Linked DNA regions of Homo sapiens: region 2 is linked to region 1. A link means that fine-mapping ties the variant in region 1 to the plasma level of a protein whose gene starts in the linked region. Region 1 holds a variant in brackets. A gene starts in the other region. All regions are shown on their forward strands.

The links. A credible set is the group of variants that fine-mapping cannot tell apart. PIP is the chance, under the fine-mapping model, that this variant and not a neighbour inherited with it causes the effect. Protein levels are from antibody-based Olink assays in UK Biobank. Linkage for the fine-mapping came from a reference panel and not from the study's own genotypes, which makes the PIPs less certain.
Region 2: it holds the start of MGLL, and the variant in region 1 is the best candidate, but not a certain one, in a credible set for the plasma level of the MGLL protein (UK Biobank, PIP 0.62).

Annotation. Positions count from the first base shown.
Region 1 is chr16:72,041,864-72,050,199 of GRCh38, forward strand. No RefSeq gene overlaps it. Among named protein-coding and RNA genes, the nearest start is that of HP, 8.5 kb to the right of the region's middle. The variant C/T (reference allele first, on the strand shown) is at 3,895.
Region 2 is chr3:127,819,373-127,827,708 of GRCh38, forward strand. It overlaps MGLL (monoglyceride lipase), which reads right to left and starts at 3,143. Exons shown (of 8, transcript NM_007283.7): 1 at 2,937-3,143; 2 at 2,322-2,466. The coding sequence starts at 2,946. RefSeq lists a silencer at 3,585-4,104.

The DNA of each region.
Region 1 (8,336 bases):
TTTGTAGGCATGGGGTTTCACTCTGTTGCCCAGGCTGGGACCTTGTGTGCTTTAATCCCTGTTAAGTCACTTAGTCAAATTTAATCCTAGCTAATAAAGAAGACAGATTGAGGTCTACTATAGTTTTATATTTGCTTGGAAGAGATGTTATGTGCTTACTACTTGGCTAAAACATGTTTCAGGATTTCTCTTTTTCCTCCAGGTACAGACCTCCGGTCCCAACACACCATAAGAACATTCTGAGATGATAATGTTACCTACCCTCTAGTCTGGGCCACCTATGATGTTGAATGAGTCTTGGCAGCCAGGGAAAATTTCTGTAAGAGCCTTGTGGTTAGACACATAGGAAATAAAGTCACTGTGGCTTGTCACATGCAAGAGGACAGCAGGGGACAGGGCATAGCGCTGTGTGTGCAGGAACAGTGTGGGAATGATCTGGAATTTGTGAAATACCTGGGCAGCAATACAAGGACGAGGCTCCAAAGGGCAGGGCTTCAGGAGAGGAAATGGATAAACACTGCACTTCTTGCATTACTGCCAGCCACAAAGAGGTTTCCTGAGTGCTGAAAACCCCATCTGGAAAGTGTCCCATAGGAAACAAAAGGAGTTACAGTGTGTGAAGGTCACTTGGCTGCTGCACCACCTGCCACCCCATTAATCACTTGAGTTGGTGGGTACAGGAACAAAGCTGTGGGCAGAGGGTCAGAACACTTCCTGTCTGCCCCAGGCACATGGAAGACATTCTCCTGAGTAGTAACCTTGGCACTGCCTTGGCTATTTGAGAAGCTGGCCAGTTACGTATTTCAGTCACTGGGTATTTGAGAAGCTGGCCAGTCTTTTGAGCTTCAACCATTCTCACAGATGTTGAATTTGCAGTTCTTAATGGATCTAGTGACACCTTCCTACCTCAGTAGAGCAAAAAATGTGGATCCCAGGTCTGGGAACCTAAAAGAAATCACTCTGAGTAGGTTAGAATTTCACCTCTATCTGAGACCCTGACAGAATCATTTAAAAATAAAAACACATATATACAAATATCTATACACACATAGGTGTGTGTGTGTGAATAGGGTGGCCCACCTTCATGTTCTTTTACTCCCTTGTTCTTCCAGTCATTCACTGAGATGCTGAGTTTTCCAGCATCTCTCAGTCTCTCAGAAGAACCGCCTGCCAGCATCCAGTGGGTCACATCCTACGACAAGCCCAGCACCTCTTCAGTGGAAGGGGATTTGCTTTGCGGCTTGGCAAGTTTATGCAAGTCCCTGATTTCTTGCACTGACTGCTGAAAAGCAGAGCTCCATTTAAATTCCATTCCTTCTGAAGATCTGTCCTATGACCAGGGTGCATGGTTCAACTCCTCTCTGCATCTGGCTGGCACCCAGGGCACTCTTGCCCAAATGCTTTGTCAGGTAGTTTACTTGATCTGTTTCCTAACGTGCTTCCCAGCCATGGTCCACATGGTTTCAGACTGCTCCAGGGCCCCCAAGGCCAACACAGGGGTCATGCTTGGAGAAAACCTTCAATTCTTTGCAGCCTCAGGCTTCTCCAGCCTTGGGTGCCAGTGCTTTAAGGTCCTCCTTATCCTCTTTGCTGGGCATCACTGCCTCAGTCATGGTTTAAATCTGATACACAAGGTTCTTAATGGGCCTCCATAGCCATGTACAATTGACACCCTTAGCCTGGCTAATGTGGTTAGCTAGCAAGTTTGTTATCCCTTCCAGGTAAGAAATGCCTTAACCCAGTGAAAGATCTGTCTCCAGATGACCCTTAAAAGTGACTCTAATGGTGAGCCCTTGATGCTGATTATGTGAGGGAATCTTTTTTATTTTATTTTTGAGACAGGGTCTTGATCTGTTGCCCAGGCTGGAGTACAGTGGCGCAATCAGAGCTCACTGCAGCCTCTCCCAGGCTCAAGTGATCCTCCCCACTCAGTCCCCTGAGTAGCTGGAACTATAGGTGCATACCACTATGCCTGGCTAACTTCTTATTTTTTTATTTTTGTAGAGATGGATCTCCCTATGTTGCCCAGGCTCACCTTGAACTCTTGGCTTCAAGCAATCCTCCAGCATGTCCTCCCAAGTGCTGGGATTATAGGCATGAGCCACTGTGCCCAGCACATGTGAGGGAGTCTTGAGAATTCTGTGTAGTTTGTCATGTGGGAGAGGTAGCACCCCAGGGTGGTCAAGGGCTTGGCCTGGGTTTGAATCCTGGCTCCTCTCTTTGCTAGCTGTGTTACCTTGAACAAGTTCCTTATCCTCTCTGTGCCCCATTTATAAAAAACGGGATTATTAGATAATAAAAAGACCCAATGCTTATGGGCTGTTGAAGAATTAAATGAGTAAATACACAGAAAGCACATAGCACAGTGCCTGGCACACAGAACCCTCCCAATGTTACCTGTTATTACTAGGAGTTGACTGGCTTTTCTCCTAAAGTACCTGCAGGGCTGGTTCTGCGGACAGCTTTTATGCTTCTGAGGGCTGGATCTTCTCCACTGCAGACAGAAGATGACAATACAGGCATTACTTACTCGTGTTACAGTTTTTATTTCTGCCCCTATTCTGAACTCTTTGAAGGCAGAGGCTATGTTTATCCCCCATTCAATTCAACCAACCGGACTGAGCCTCTGTTGTATGCCAGGCATTGCTGGGCCATGGAGATAAGGGTGAATGAAAAAACACCGACTTGGTCCTACCTTGTTTCCTGGGACCCATCCCACAAACGTGGTAGGTTGAAGAAATTAAGGAAGGTTGATATGAATTCTTTTGAATATAGAGTCAGTTTTTACACTCGTACTAATATCCTCATGCCTTTGACATCTGACCAGTTTCATGCTGGGAAAGGCAGCATTTCTTTGTAAGTTTTGACAGGCTGTGTGGGTTTCCCACCTTGGTTGGCTGTCTTTGCTGACAGGAAGCTGGTCTGAGGATAATATTTGATTTAGCAGCCTGGATCTTGGAAGTTCCTCATTTACAAACTGTCAGGGATGATCCTACTTTTAAGAAGCTCTTAAAAAGCTTAAAATATCAATGTGTATGGTACAAAATATCAATATGTGTGTCTGCCAGTGGCTCAGTTTTGGAGAAGAGAATTGCTGACCGTAAGGCAGTGCAACTGGGAAGCAATGCCTATGTTCCAGGCACCGTGGGACCCTGTAGCCCCTGGTCCTGGTGACTGTGAAAAAAAGGAGAAATTCTAGAAATAGGTGTAATCATGTGAATGTCTTTGTTTAATTTTCTTATCAAGATAAACTGCAATTCTGAACAACATGTGCTGTTCTGAATTCAACAGTCCACTCTCCATTCTGTTTGAAGGTCATGTATACTCTTGTGAAAATCCAGGGTTCTCATTTCATGGCTACTGAGGTATTTATTCCTATACTATTTAAATCAATTAAAAAATATCATTTACAATAACATAAACATCAAATGCTTAAGAATAAATCTAATGAAAGAGGTGCCAGAGGTCTGTATCAATATGAACAAGGCATTAAAATTAAAGACAGCCTAAATAAATGAAGAGAGATGCTACGTGCATTACTCGAAAGACTCAACAGAGTCAAGATGTCAACTCTCCCCAAAGTGATCTGGAGATTCAATGTAATCCCAATAAAAATCCCATCAGGACATTTTGTGAGAATTGGAAAGTTGATTTTAAAATTTACATAAAATGGAAAAGACCTAGAATAGTCAAGACAAACTCTGAAAGAAAATAAAGTTGGAACACTTATAATACCAGATAGCAAGATTTAGTATAAAGTTCCCATTATTGGCCAGGTGTGGAGGCTCATGCCTGTAATGCCAGCACTTTAGGAAGCTGAGGTGGGTGGATCACTTGAGCCCAAGAGTTCAAGTCCAGCCTGGTCAACATGGCAAAACCACATCTCTACAACTA[C/T]AACAACAACAAGTTGGCTGTGTGTGGTTGCGCATACCTGTAGTCTCAGTTACCTGTGAGGCTGAGGTGGGAGGATTGTTGGAGATCATTGTTGAGGCTGCAGATTGTGTCCCTGCACTCCTGCCTGGGGGACAGTGAGACCCTGTCTCAAAAAAAGTTCCCATTTGTGAACCCCCAAAATTTGAGACAGGTTTCGGTTAATTTAGAAAGCTTATTTTGCCAAGGTTGAGGACGCACACCCAACACAACCTCAGGAGGTCCTGATATATGTCCAAGGCGGTCAGAGCACAGTTTGGTTTTATACATTTTAGGGAGACCTGAGACATCAATCAACATACGTAAGATGAACACTGGTTCCGTCCGCAGAGGCGGGACAAGTCTCAAAGCCAGGAGGGGGCTTCCAGGTCATAGGTAGATAAGAGACAAATGGTTACATTCTTTTGAGGTTCTGATGAGCCTCTCCAAAAGAGGCAAAAGGATATGCATTTATCTCAGTGAGCAGAGGGGTGGCATTGAATAGAATGGGAGGCAGGTTTGCCCTAAGCAGTTCTCTGCTTCACTTTTCCCTTTAGCTTAGTGATTCTGGGGGTTTAAGATAGTTTCCTTTCACACATTATTATTATTATTATTATTATTATTATTTATTTTTTTATTTTTATTTTTTGAGACAGAATCTCGTTCTGTCGCCCAGGCTGGAGTGCAGTGGCGCGATCTCAGCTCACTGCAACTTCCGCCTTCCGGGTTCAAGCGATTCCCCTGCCTCAGCCTCCGAGTAGCTGGGACTACAGGCGCCCGCCACCATGCCCAGCTAATTTTTTGTACTTTAGTAGGGATGGGGTTTCACCATGTTGGCCAGAATGATCTCGATCTCCTGACCTCGTGATCCACCCGCCTCGGCCTCCCAAAATGCTGGGATTACAGGCGTGAGCCACCGCACCCAACCTCCTTTCACACATTATTAAGACAGTATGACAATGGCTCCAGATTAGACAAATAGACTAATGGAAAAGAATAGAGGATTCAGGAGGAGGCCAACACATATATAATCACCTGATGTATAATAAAGATACCACTGGAATTCAGGGACAAAGGATGGTCATTTTAGCAAATAATACTGGATCGATTGCATGCCTATATGGAAAAAATGAACTTTTCTCTCACATCCTATACCAACATTAATTCCAAATGGATCATAGACCTAGATTTGAAAGGTAAAACAATACACTTTTAGAAAAACATATAGGAGAATATTGTCACAACCTTGTAGGCAAAAATTTCTTAATCAGAACACAGAAATCACTAACTATGAAATTTAAAAAACTGACAAATTAGGACTTATTTAAGATTAAGAACTTCTGTACTTCTGTTCATCAAAATACAAGATTAAAAGAATTAAAGGACAAACCATGGAATGGGAGAACATGTTTACAATACATTTATCCAAAAAAAGACTAGTATTCAGAATATTTTAGAAAAAGACAACAAATCTACAAGGAGAAGACATACTGTAAAGAGGATATCTAAGTGGTCCAACACAAATCTAAAAAGTGGTCTACATCATTTGATATTGGGGAAATGCAAAATTAAAGCCATTATTATTATTTTTATTTATTTATTTATTTTTTGAGATGGAGTCTTGCTCTTTCCCCCAGGCTGAAGTGCAGTGGTGCGATCTCAGTTCACTGCAACCTCTGCCCCCAGGTTCAAACGATTCTCCTGCCTCAGTCTCCTGAGTAGCTGGGACTACAGGCCCATGCCACCACACCCGGCTGATTTTTGTATTTTTAGTAGAGACGGGGTTTCGCTGTGTTGGCCAGGCTGGTCTCGAACTCCTGACCTCAGGTGATCCACCTGCCTTGGCCTCCCAAAGTGCTAGGATTACAGGCGTGAGCCACTGTGCCTGGCCTCCATTATTATGTTTTACTACACATATGCAGAATGGCAAAACTTAAAAAGTATTGGCAAGGATGCAGAGCAACTGGAACTTTGATATACTGATGATAGGAGAGTTTATTGAAAAACTGGTAGAATCTATTAAAGCTAGACATATGCCTACCCTATGACAAAACCAGGTACGTATCCAAGAGAAATGAATGCAGGTAACCACCAAACAATATATGCAAGAATGTTCATAGCAGCTTGGTTTGCAGTAGCCCCCGGATGGAATCAATCCACACATCCATCTACAGGAGAATGGATAAATCAATTGTGCTTTAGTCACACAATGGAATACTTCTCAGCAATAAAAAAAGAAACTAATGTGACAACATGGATGTTTCTCACAGACATTATGTTGAAAAAACAAGCCAGAAACCAAGAATGCCTACTATTTGATTCTATTTATACAAAGTTCAGGACCAGGCAAAAGTATTCCATCATGACAGATGTCAGGACAGTGGTTACTTTGGTAGGGGTGGGGTGTGGGCTGAGAGGAACCCAAAGGAGTTTTCTGGGGTGCTAGAAATATTTCATACTATAAAGATTCATTGAGATGAACACTTAAGGTTTGGTATTTTTAGTAAATGATGCTGGATCAATTGTACATCCAAATGGAGTAAAATGAGTGTGGTCTCCTTACCTCACTTCCCTGTGTGTATGCAAGCTATTTATAACAGTAAAATTAAAGTACATGTGATACCTCCTTAAGTTAGGAGTATAATATAGCATTTAAGATTTTTTTTTTTTTTTTTTTTTTTGAGACAGAGTCTCGCTCTGTCACCCAGGCTGGAGTGCAGTGGCGCGATCTTGGCTCACTGCAACCTCCGCCCCCCAGGTTCAAGTGATTCTCCTGCCTCAGCCTCCTGAGTAGCTGGGATTACAGGCGCACGCCATCACACCTGGCTAATTTTTGTATTTTTAGTAGGATGGGGTTTCACCATGTTGGTCAGCCTGGTCTCAAACTCCTGACCTCGTGATCTGCCTGCCACGGCCTCCCAAAGTGCTGGGATTACAGGTGTGAGCCACCGTGCCTGGCCTAAAATGTTTTAAGAGTTTTCTACAACATGGAAAATGCCTACAACATTGGGTGATGTAGAAAGCAAAAAGTTCCTCTTCAAAATTTCCCTTCTTGTTAAAGAATAAATCATAAGTGTTAGAGATAATAGTTTCTTTTAAAAACTAACTTCCTTCAAACTTCCTTGCTTTGTGCTAATAACTCTTTGTTAAGCCCTATCCTATGTAGTTATTAAATGTAAGAAAATTAAATACATTCTATGTCCCTGTACTTTAACCAAGATATCTGTGCTAGACCTGTGCACAGGCATGTCACAGCTTGCAGCCTATGCCCCTTCCTTATTTGGGAATGTTATTACTTTTCTGAGTCTTTTCATAAGCAACTTCCTCTTTTCCTTTCTTCTCCTCTGCCATTACCTCTTTAGAAAAAGTTTTAAACCTTTAGCCAACTGGGTGCTGCCTAGACTGTCAGGTCCAGTTCCAGCCAATGGAATCAGGACACAGCAGTAGGGTCTGGATGGGTCAGATATAAATGTTTTGTACCTCCTTTGTTCAAGTGTGCTCTTGTCTTTGTTCCATCTGTGATGGGCACCCTTTCTGCAGAAAGTAAAAATTGCCTTGCTGAGAGAATTAAATTTATGTTCAAGTGCTATTTCTTTATGGCACTGGGGAACAAGCATTTTGCATTTCTAACAGATGAAAAGGTTAGGCCAAAAAATTCTATATAAAGAATGATCAAAATTGTGTAAAAGTATGCACAGAGAAAATCTGAAAGGAAGTAACACTAAAATGTTAATAGTGGTTATTGGTTGTCTTGAGGTGGTGAAATTATCGGAGACTTATTTCTTATTTTTATTTTTTGGTAGCTTATAAAATTTCAAGACTTTTGTAATGGCAGAGTAAACTTTTTGTTTTTTTGAGACAGGGTCTCACTGTCACCCAGGCTGAAGTGCAGTGGCATGATCATAGCTCACTACAGCCTCAACTCCCAGGTGCAAGCAATCCTCCCACCTCAGCCTCCAGAGTAGCTGGGACTACAGGCATGTGCCACTGTTCTTGGATAATTTTTTACGTATTTTCTGTAGAGACGGAGTTTTACCATGTTGCCCATTTTATTCCATATGGTCTCCAACTCTTGGGCTCAAGCAATCGACCCGCCTTGGCCTCCCAAAGCACTGGGATTACAGGCATGAGCCACTATGCCTGGCTGGCAGAGTGAACTTTTAAAAATCATATTTTCCTTCTAAAATCAAAACTCTCCCCTTCAAGCTCCTCTGTCAACTGCTGTCCTGGCCTATTAATATTTCAAGCTTTCCTGCTTTCTATTCTCCCAAGAAAATATATGCCTACTTTCCTTGGTGGAGTCTTCTGACTTGCTATCTCCCATCTTGACTTGTCCAGTGATAGAGAGAAGCCTTTTGGGCTGGATTCTGTTTCTCCTCAAGTTAATGAAAGATGCCCAGGGCAGGAAGGCTGTGTGTGAATGCTCC
Region 2 (8,336 bases), not on the chromosome of region 1:
AAGATATCCACAGGCCCCCGGGGTGGCTTCTGAGGTCCCTAGGGTCTCTATGAGAAAGATAGCAGAGGCGGGGCTGGAGATGAGGTGCTCTTAACCCAGGTTTTGCCCACAGTTGGTACAGTAGTGGGGGAGGGTTCAGTCTCCTCTTTTTTTGCCCCTTGCTTTTCCTCCCTTCTTTCTTCCTAACTGGGAGGAGACAGGATTGCACAAAGCGAGGCCCTAGTTTTGCTGAAGAGGGGTAAAAAGCCTGGGGGGAAAGATTGAAGCCCTGGTGACTTGAGGTCCCCTCCCTCTTCCTAAAAGCAGAGTGAATGATTCTGTGCAGGCAATAATAATAATACTTATTATAATGATGCTGCGGGGGTCTCCCAGATCATGCAAGAGGGCAGGCAGGCTGAGCAGCTGGTCTCGGTTATGAAGATACAGAGGTGTTTCATGCTGGCTGGCACAAACCTCTGCCCTGAGCCCCCACCCTAGGACCCCCAAGACTGCCCCAAGATCCAGCAAGCACAGGGTTAACATGAGTCATGGCAAGGGGCCTCCAGGACCTCTGCATCATCTCCAGGGGCTGGAGGCAGGGCAGGACAGGTAGGTAGGACCTTGGCCAGCCCCTTCCTCTTTGGTAAACTGAGGATAACACTATGGAAAGTGTTCATACATGCTCATGGTTCTGTTGCTCTTTCTATTTCAGTGCTCCTGCCCTCAATATTTTTTTCCCTTAACCTTTTCTAGACCCATAGGTTTCTTCCAAATTCTGGGGCCGAACTGCCTCAACCATCCACCTCTGTTCTTAAGCCCATCAGCACCCACCACAAGGCGGACGCTGACATCCAAGAGGCAGCTCAGTTTAAATTAAGAAGTTGAGTTATCATCTCTAACTAGAGCAAAAGCAACGGAGCAGAGAGGGCTCCCTGCAATGCAACTTCAGCACAGAGATTGTGAAAACCACCCGCAGGCGAAGGGAGGGCAGGGCAGCCAACTTGACCGTTTCTAACCCACTCACCCACCACCCTCCCCCTGTGCCAGGACTGCAGAACCTCTTTATTTTTGTTGACTTCGAACTAGGACAACCTCACTACTTAACCAACAAAGCCCCCCAAGTCTGAGACTCAGACATTAAAAACTTCTATTTTCAATTATTTGTCTTCTTTCTGTATATTGATCAAATTACCACAAACCACTAATCTGTTAGAAATTAATCCAAGATTGAGCAATTCTACAGCCAGTTAAGTCAGAGTGGAGAATTAATGATTAATTAGCATCATAATGCTCAACAACCCCCCCACTTCCTCTAATGCGTATGCACGTACAGACACATTCTTTAAGAAATGTATTACCAGAACTGGTAGGAACTCTTCTCAGCACGTTACCCACTTGAAAACACTAGAGAGAAACCATAGCCAGTCTGTGTAGCTGCCCTGAAGCTATGACTCTATGCCGGGTTTTAAAAGTCCATATCTCTGTGTTTTTAACGTGCAGCTCCCTGGATCATAGATACCTTGATGAAGACAGAGAAGAAATTTTACACCTGTGTGAGGGTTGGGTGATTACTGGAGCACAAAGAGAGACATAATCCAACCACACAATGATCCCTAGGAGACAAGAGGCCTACAAAACAGGTAAAATGTCCCTGGAACAGGAAATGTTCTTGTCACCAGGCCAATTGGTTACCACAAATAAATTCTTTTTCCAAATAACACAAACAAGCAGGGTTTTCCTGCTTCATCCAAGAGGAGGGAGCAGCAGCAGGAGACCAGCTGTCTTGTGTATAGTCCCAATGTTTGCTTCTAATAGCAAGACAAATCCTTGATGGAAAATGTACAAAGTAATTGAGCTGGCAAGGAATCAGAAGGAAATACCCAGGCCCCTTTCTTCCTGGTGACACATGTATGCCATCTTCAGAAGCTCAGAAACAAGCAGGAAAAGTGAGCAAAGGTGAAGATATATGTATTACTTCGGGTTTCTCATCCATCTAGGGGATTTTCCTTAATTGTCGGGTTTGATTTTAAATGAATGCCTGTACAACCGGAAATCAACTCCAGTACAAAAAATAAAGTCATGTGGAATTTTTGAAAATTGCCATACGGTAGGATCCATATCTGAGTTGTTATAATGAAAAAAGAATTCCTGCTTCTTAAATTTAAAAATTATAAAGTATACATTTTAGCTTTGTTAACATTGCTCAGCCTAACATTAAAACGGCAGGGGAAGTAGGTCATAGAGAAAGCGGCCCCGCCCCAGATGGCACATGATAACGACCAGAGGAGAAGCAGGGGCCATGCTCCCCTGTCACCTGGGGTGACTTTCTGGGGAAGACTTACTTGGGTGTGCCTGTGGGTTTCCAGTACCTGCAGAAGAGGTACTGTCCGTCTGCATTGACCAGGTGAGGGAGGTCCTGGTAGGGAATGCTCTGCGGGGTCCGCCTGGGGGAACTTTCCTCTGGCATGCTGGAAGGGTCTTCAGGTCCTAGAAGGAAAAGTGACATATTCCAAAGTCAGAAATATCTCAAGAACATGTATGGATAGGAGAGAAAAGTCTAGTTCAGAGTCAGTAACATTTTTTTAAAAGCAGTTTAAAAAACCCCTCTGTTTCAAAGGTTTAAAACATACATACATTTCTTGCAAACCTCTCCAAGACTGAAAAATCCCATTTGTTCTTAAGAAAATGCTCACTTTATTTTTTAAGTGCCTCATTACAGTTTTTCCCCCTTCCCATCTGTGTTTATTTTAAATCATTTCAGGAAACTTCATCTTAAAGACTATTTTAGCTGTAATCAAGTGGAAATTATAGTCAGCTCTATGGGTACAAAGACCCAGCTGCAAGAAGACCCATCTATCTTAAAATCTCCAAGGAACAGTTTCAAGTGGGCACAATAATGAGGTGGATGATACTCAGATTATTCCTCCCATCTGAAATTCCAAGGATACATGACAAACCTGTTTCCATTATGTGCTGGCGTTTGCATTCCACAACCACGACAGCCTGGAGAATCAGAACCAGGCAAATCGGGCTGTTCCCTCATCTGGGCGGCCCCAAGGCAGCAGGAAGGCAGCTCCGAGCCCTCTTCCCGCACCCAGACCCTGCCTTTCGGGCTGGGGCGCTCAGCCGGGAGCCTGCTTCCAGCTCCCACCGGCAGGCTCTCCGGGGCTCCCCTCCCTCCCCAGGGCGGGGAGCGGCGCTGCGATTCTCCACTACTAGTTCATGTCATCACTTTTCCTAAACAAATCGCTAGAGGGGCTCGGAGAAGGGAGGGGCCCGGGAAACTGGGAAACTAGCTCCGCGCACACCGAGGCACCTCGCAGACGCACAAATGCGGGTGCCCAAGGCAAAGTCGCCCCCAAGGCTTCTCACAAACTTTGCTTCCTGTGCGTCTCCGACAGCACAGGACACGTAGCCCCGAAGCTGTCATCGGAAATGCCGCTGGGAAAACCGGGTGGGCTTCGCCGGGTGTCTGCACCGGGGAAGGTGGGGACTAGAAAGATGGAGTTGATGGGGACAAGTTGGTTTGGGGGCTGGTGCGAAGGAGCAGGGAGGGCGCGCGCGCGCGCACACGCGCGCACACTCGGACACGCGCGCACACACACCGTGCACACACACACACGCACACATGGGTAGCGGGAGCCCACGCCGGGCGTGTCCGGGACCCCAGTGCTGCTCCCCACCCCTGACGGCGGCACTGGCGGGCTGGGGCAGGGGCCGGGAGGCAGTTACCGGGGCCACGAGCGCCGCTGTCGCGTTCCCCGAGCGCAGCGGATCCTCGTTTGCGGCGGGCCAGGGCCGGGACGAGCTGCGCGCGACCGGCTTCGCGGCGACAGGGTGCGGCGTCTGCGCCGCCACTTTATCCCTGGGCCGGCTCGGCGGCGGGGGCGGCCCGAGGTGGGTGGGGACGCGCGGGACCCGGCGGGCGGCGGGCGGCGCGGGGAGGCGGCGCCCGGGGCCCACGTGTGCCCGGCCCGCGGGGAGGAGCGGGGGCGCCGCCCGCCGACCCAGCCACGCACTCCTCTCCTCCGCGCCTCGTGGACAGCCGCGCCCCGGGGTGGCCGCCCGAGGACTGTCAGGGAGGCCTGAACTGAGCTGGGTTCATGGGAGCCTCAGCGCGGGAGGACACACCACACCCACGGGCACACGCGCGCACACAGACCCACAGGCACCACACGTACACAGACAACTCGCGCAGGGCCGCACACTCACCACACGTGTACACATGTGCACTCCCAAAGTCACTACACTGCACGCAGGGACATACAGACACACATCCCAGAGATACCACATGCATACAGACACACACAGACCACACATGCATGCACACACACAAGCCGAGACATAGGCACAGACAACCCACAGAGACACAGAGGTGCACAGACATATGCAGACTATACACCTGGCCCCCACATAGACACAGACACACTCACATCATACACACACAGTCGCACACAGACACACTCACACTTCATTGCAGTCAGACACATACAATGCTGGAGGGGCAATTAACCGGTCGTGGTGGCATGCGCCTGTAGTCCCAGCTACTCAGGAGAATCGCTTGAACCCGGGAGGCAGAGGTTGCAGTGAGCCGATACCACACCATTGCACTTCAGCCTGGGTGACAGAGTGAGACTCCATCTCGGGGAAAAAAAAATGCTGGAGGGGGTCCACTTGACTCTAGGGTAGTGTAAAAGCAGATGGTGCATGGCTACAAATGCCTTGTCCCTTCCTGGCAATCCCCAGCAACTCTCCCGTTCCCAGCGGCTGTGACCCCCAGATAAAACCTCTGGTGCATCTACACAGGCCAGGGCACAGTCTGAGCTCTGTCCAGTATAACTAGCAACGTGGCCGTGGAGGGTAAGGCCACTGGACTGAGACTCCACACCACCTGGGTTGAACATTAGCTCCTCCGCTTGCTCTTTGAGCCTCAGTCTACCTACCTTCAACCTGTGAGTGATATACCTATGCCCCAGTGGAGTGTCCCTGTCTCACACTGACCTCAAGAGGCCTTCCTGTCTTTCTCCGCAAAAAATTCTACACCATAGCAGCGTTGAGGACTGTGTCTCAGCGTCACACTGTGTGTGTCCAAGGAGGCCCAAGTTGCTACAGAGCCTGTGGTCTAACTTGAGAAATAAAACAACAGCCTTTGAGCAGTGGCTTGAGTTGTAGGCACTGCTGAGCGTGACTTACCCACTGTCTGGCCTCCAGCAGGCCACGAGGCCTGGAGCAGAGGAGTGGCTAAGTGACTTCTGGTCGGGGCAGCTCTACAGAATCCATGCAAGAGAGGTTTAGGGGCGGCAGTCTCAGGGGCAGGAAGCTTGGGGGCTTCACTCAAAGCTGGACATGCTAAGTGCACCGGATTTCCGTTGGTTATAATTCATGGAAAGGAAGGGTGCTCGGGGGTCTGATGGACGCTTTTATCAAGGCATTATTTCAAATGTTCCTGGCTCTAACATTTTATGATTTAAAATACACAGCTTGAAAATTTGGAGGAGAGGCCGGGCTCAGTGGCTCACGCCTGTAATCCCAGTCCTTTGGGAGGCCAGGCAGGTGGATCATCTGAGGTCAGGAGCTGGAGACCAGCCTGACCAACATGGTGAAACCCCATCTCTACTAAAAATACAAAAATTAGCTGGGCATGGTAGCGGGCACCTGTAATCCCAGCTACTCGGGAGGCTGAGGCAGGAGAATCGCTTGAACCCGGGAGACAGAGGTTGCAGTGATTGCACTCCAGCCTGAGCGACAGAGCAAGGCTCTGTCTCAAAAAAAAAAAAAAAAAAAAAAAGCTTTGAGGAGAGACTTCACTGAAGTTGTCAGAGGGATCTCAGTAGAAGTGACATTTGCAAACTTGAAGAGATCCCCCAAACTTGGTTATGGACAGAACTGAGACTGTGGTGTGTGGCCAGCCAACTGGGAATTTGGGAGTTAAGAGACAGATCGTATTGTTCTGTATCTGGCTTTTTCTTTTAATTAAACTTATTCTGAGATAATTGTAGATTCGCATGCAGTTGTAACAAATAATAAAGAGAGATGCTATGTGCCCTTTACTCAGTTTCCTGCAATGGCAACTTCTCACAAACCACAGTAAATATCACAACAGGATACTGACACTGATAGAATATCTGTAGTCAAGCTACAGAACGTCTCTACCCCACAAAGTGGTATGCTTTTATAGCCACATCCACTTCCCTCTCATCCTCACTCCCCTAGAACCCCTGGCAACTGCTAATTTGTTCTCCATTTCTAAAATTTTGTCATTTCAAGGATATTTTATGAATAGAATCATAAAGTACATAACCTCTAGGATTCACCTTTTCATTCAGCATAATTCCAGGTGGGTTGGGTGTAGCAGTCCACAGTATGGAAGTACCACAGTGTGTCTAACAGGTCATCTGCTGAAGGATATCTGCGTTGTTTCCAGTGTTTGTTGATTAAGAATAAAGCTGCTGTAAACCTCCGTGTACATGTTTTTGTGTGAACCTAAGTCTTCATTCTCTGAGATGAGGGCCCAGGAGTGCAATTGCTGAGCTGTAGGGAAATTGCAAGTTTTTAAAGAGAATGCCAAAATGTTTTCCAGAGTGACTGTAGCATTTTACATTCCTACCAGCAGTGTAGGAGAGAACCAGTCTCTCAGCATTCATGTCAGCATGTAGTGTTGTCACCATTTTAAAAATTTTAGTCTTTCTGTTAAGTGTGTAGTGATGATATTTCACTGTGGTTTTTAATTTGCTTTTGCCTAATGGCTAATGTTGTTTCATGTGCGTATTTGCCATCTATATATCCCATTCAGTAAAATGTCTTTTCTTGTCTTTCGGCTATTTTCTTGCCCCCCACCCCCCTTTTTTTTTTTTTTTTTTTGAGACTGAGCCTCACTCTGTAGCCCAAGCTGAAGTGCAGTGGCGCCATCTTGTTTCATTGCAACCTCCACCTCCCAGGCTCAAACAATTCTCATGCCTCAGCCTCCCTAGTAGCTGGGACTACAGGTGCAGGCCACCACACCTGGCTAACTTTTTGTATTTTAGTAGAGACGGGGTTTCATCATGTTGCCCAGGGTGGTCTCAAATTCCTGAGCTCAGGCGATCTGACCGGCCTCAGCCTCCCAAAGTGCTGGAATTACAGGCATGAGCCACCACGCCCATCCTTTAGGCTATTTTCTTTCTTTCTTTTCTTTTCTTTTTTCTTTTTTTTGAGACAGGGTCTCGTTCTGTCACCCAGTCTGGAGTGCGTTGGTACGATCTCCGTTCATTGCAGCCTTTGGCTATTTTTTAATTGTTTGCTTGTTGTTTTCTTACTGTTGAGTTTTGAGAGTTCTTGGTATATTCTAGACATTAGTCTACTAGATACTAGATGTGTGATTGCAAATATTTTCTTCCAGTCTGTAGCTTGTCTTTTAATCCTTTTAACAAGGTCTTTTGCAGAGCAAAAGTTTTCATTTTGATCAGAAACAATTTATCAATTTTTTGTTTTATGGATTATGCATTTGGTGTCAAGTCTAAGAACTCTGTGTAGTCCTACCTCAAGAGATTTTCTCCTGTGTTTTTCTCTAAAAGTTGTATAGATTTACATTTTATGCTTAAGTCTGTAAGCTATTTTGAGTTACTTTTTGTCTGGAGTGTGAGATTTAGATCAAGGTTCATTTGTCTCTACATGTCCCATTGCTCCAGCACAGTTTGTTGAAAAGGCTGCCTTTCCTCCACTGAATTGCTTTTGCACTTTTGTAAAATTCAGCTGCCTGCTTGTACAGGTCTATTTCTGGGTTCTCTCTTTTGTTTCTTTGGTCTGTGTCTATTCCTCCACCAATACCACACAGTCTTGATTATTGAAGTTCTCTATAAATCTTGAAATTGAATAGGCTGGTTCCTCTCACTTTATTCTTCATTTACAAGACTTTTTTTTTTTTTTTTTTTTTTTTTTTTTTTTGGTAGAGAAGGAATCTCTCCATGTTGCCCAGGCTGGTCTTGAACTCCCGGCCTTAAGCCACCCTCCCACTGTGACCTCCCAATGCACTGGGATTACAAATGTGAGCTACCACACTCAGTCTACAAGATTCTTTGAACGATTCTAGTTCCTTCACCTTTCAATATAAATTTTAAAATAACCTTGTTTATATTCATTAAAAATTTTGCTGGGATTATGATAGGAATTGCATTAAACATGTATATTCTTCGAGAACTGACATTTTTACTATTAAGTCTTCCAATCCATGAACATGGGTATATATGTCCATTTATTTAGTTGTTCTTTGATTCCTTCATAAATGTTGTATAGTTTTCAGCATACAAGTTCTATACACATTTGGTCAAATTTATACCTTTTTTAAAATAAGTAATTATAAATGTTAGGTATATTTAATT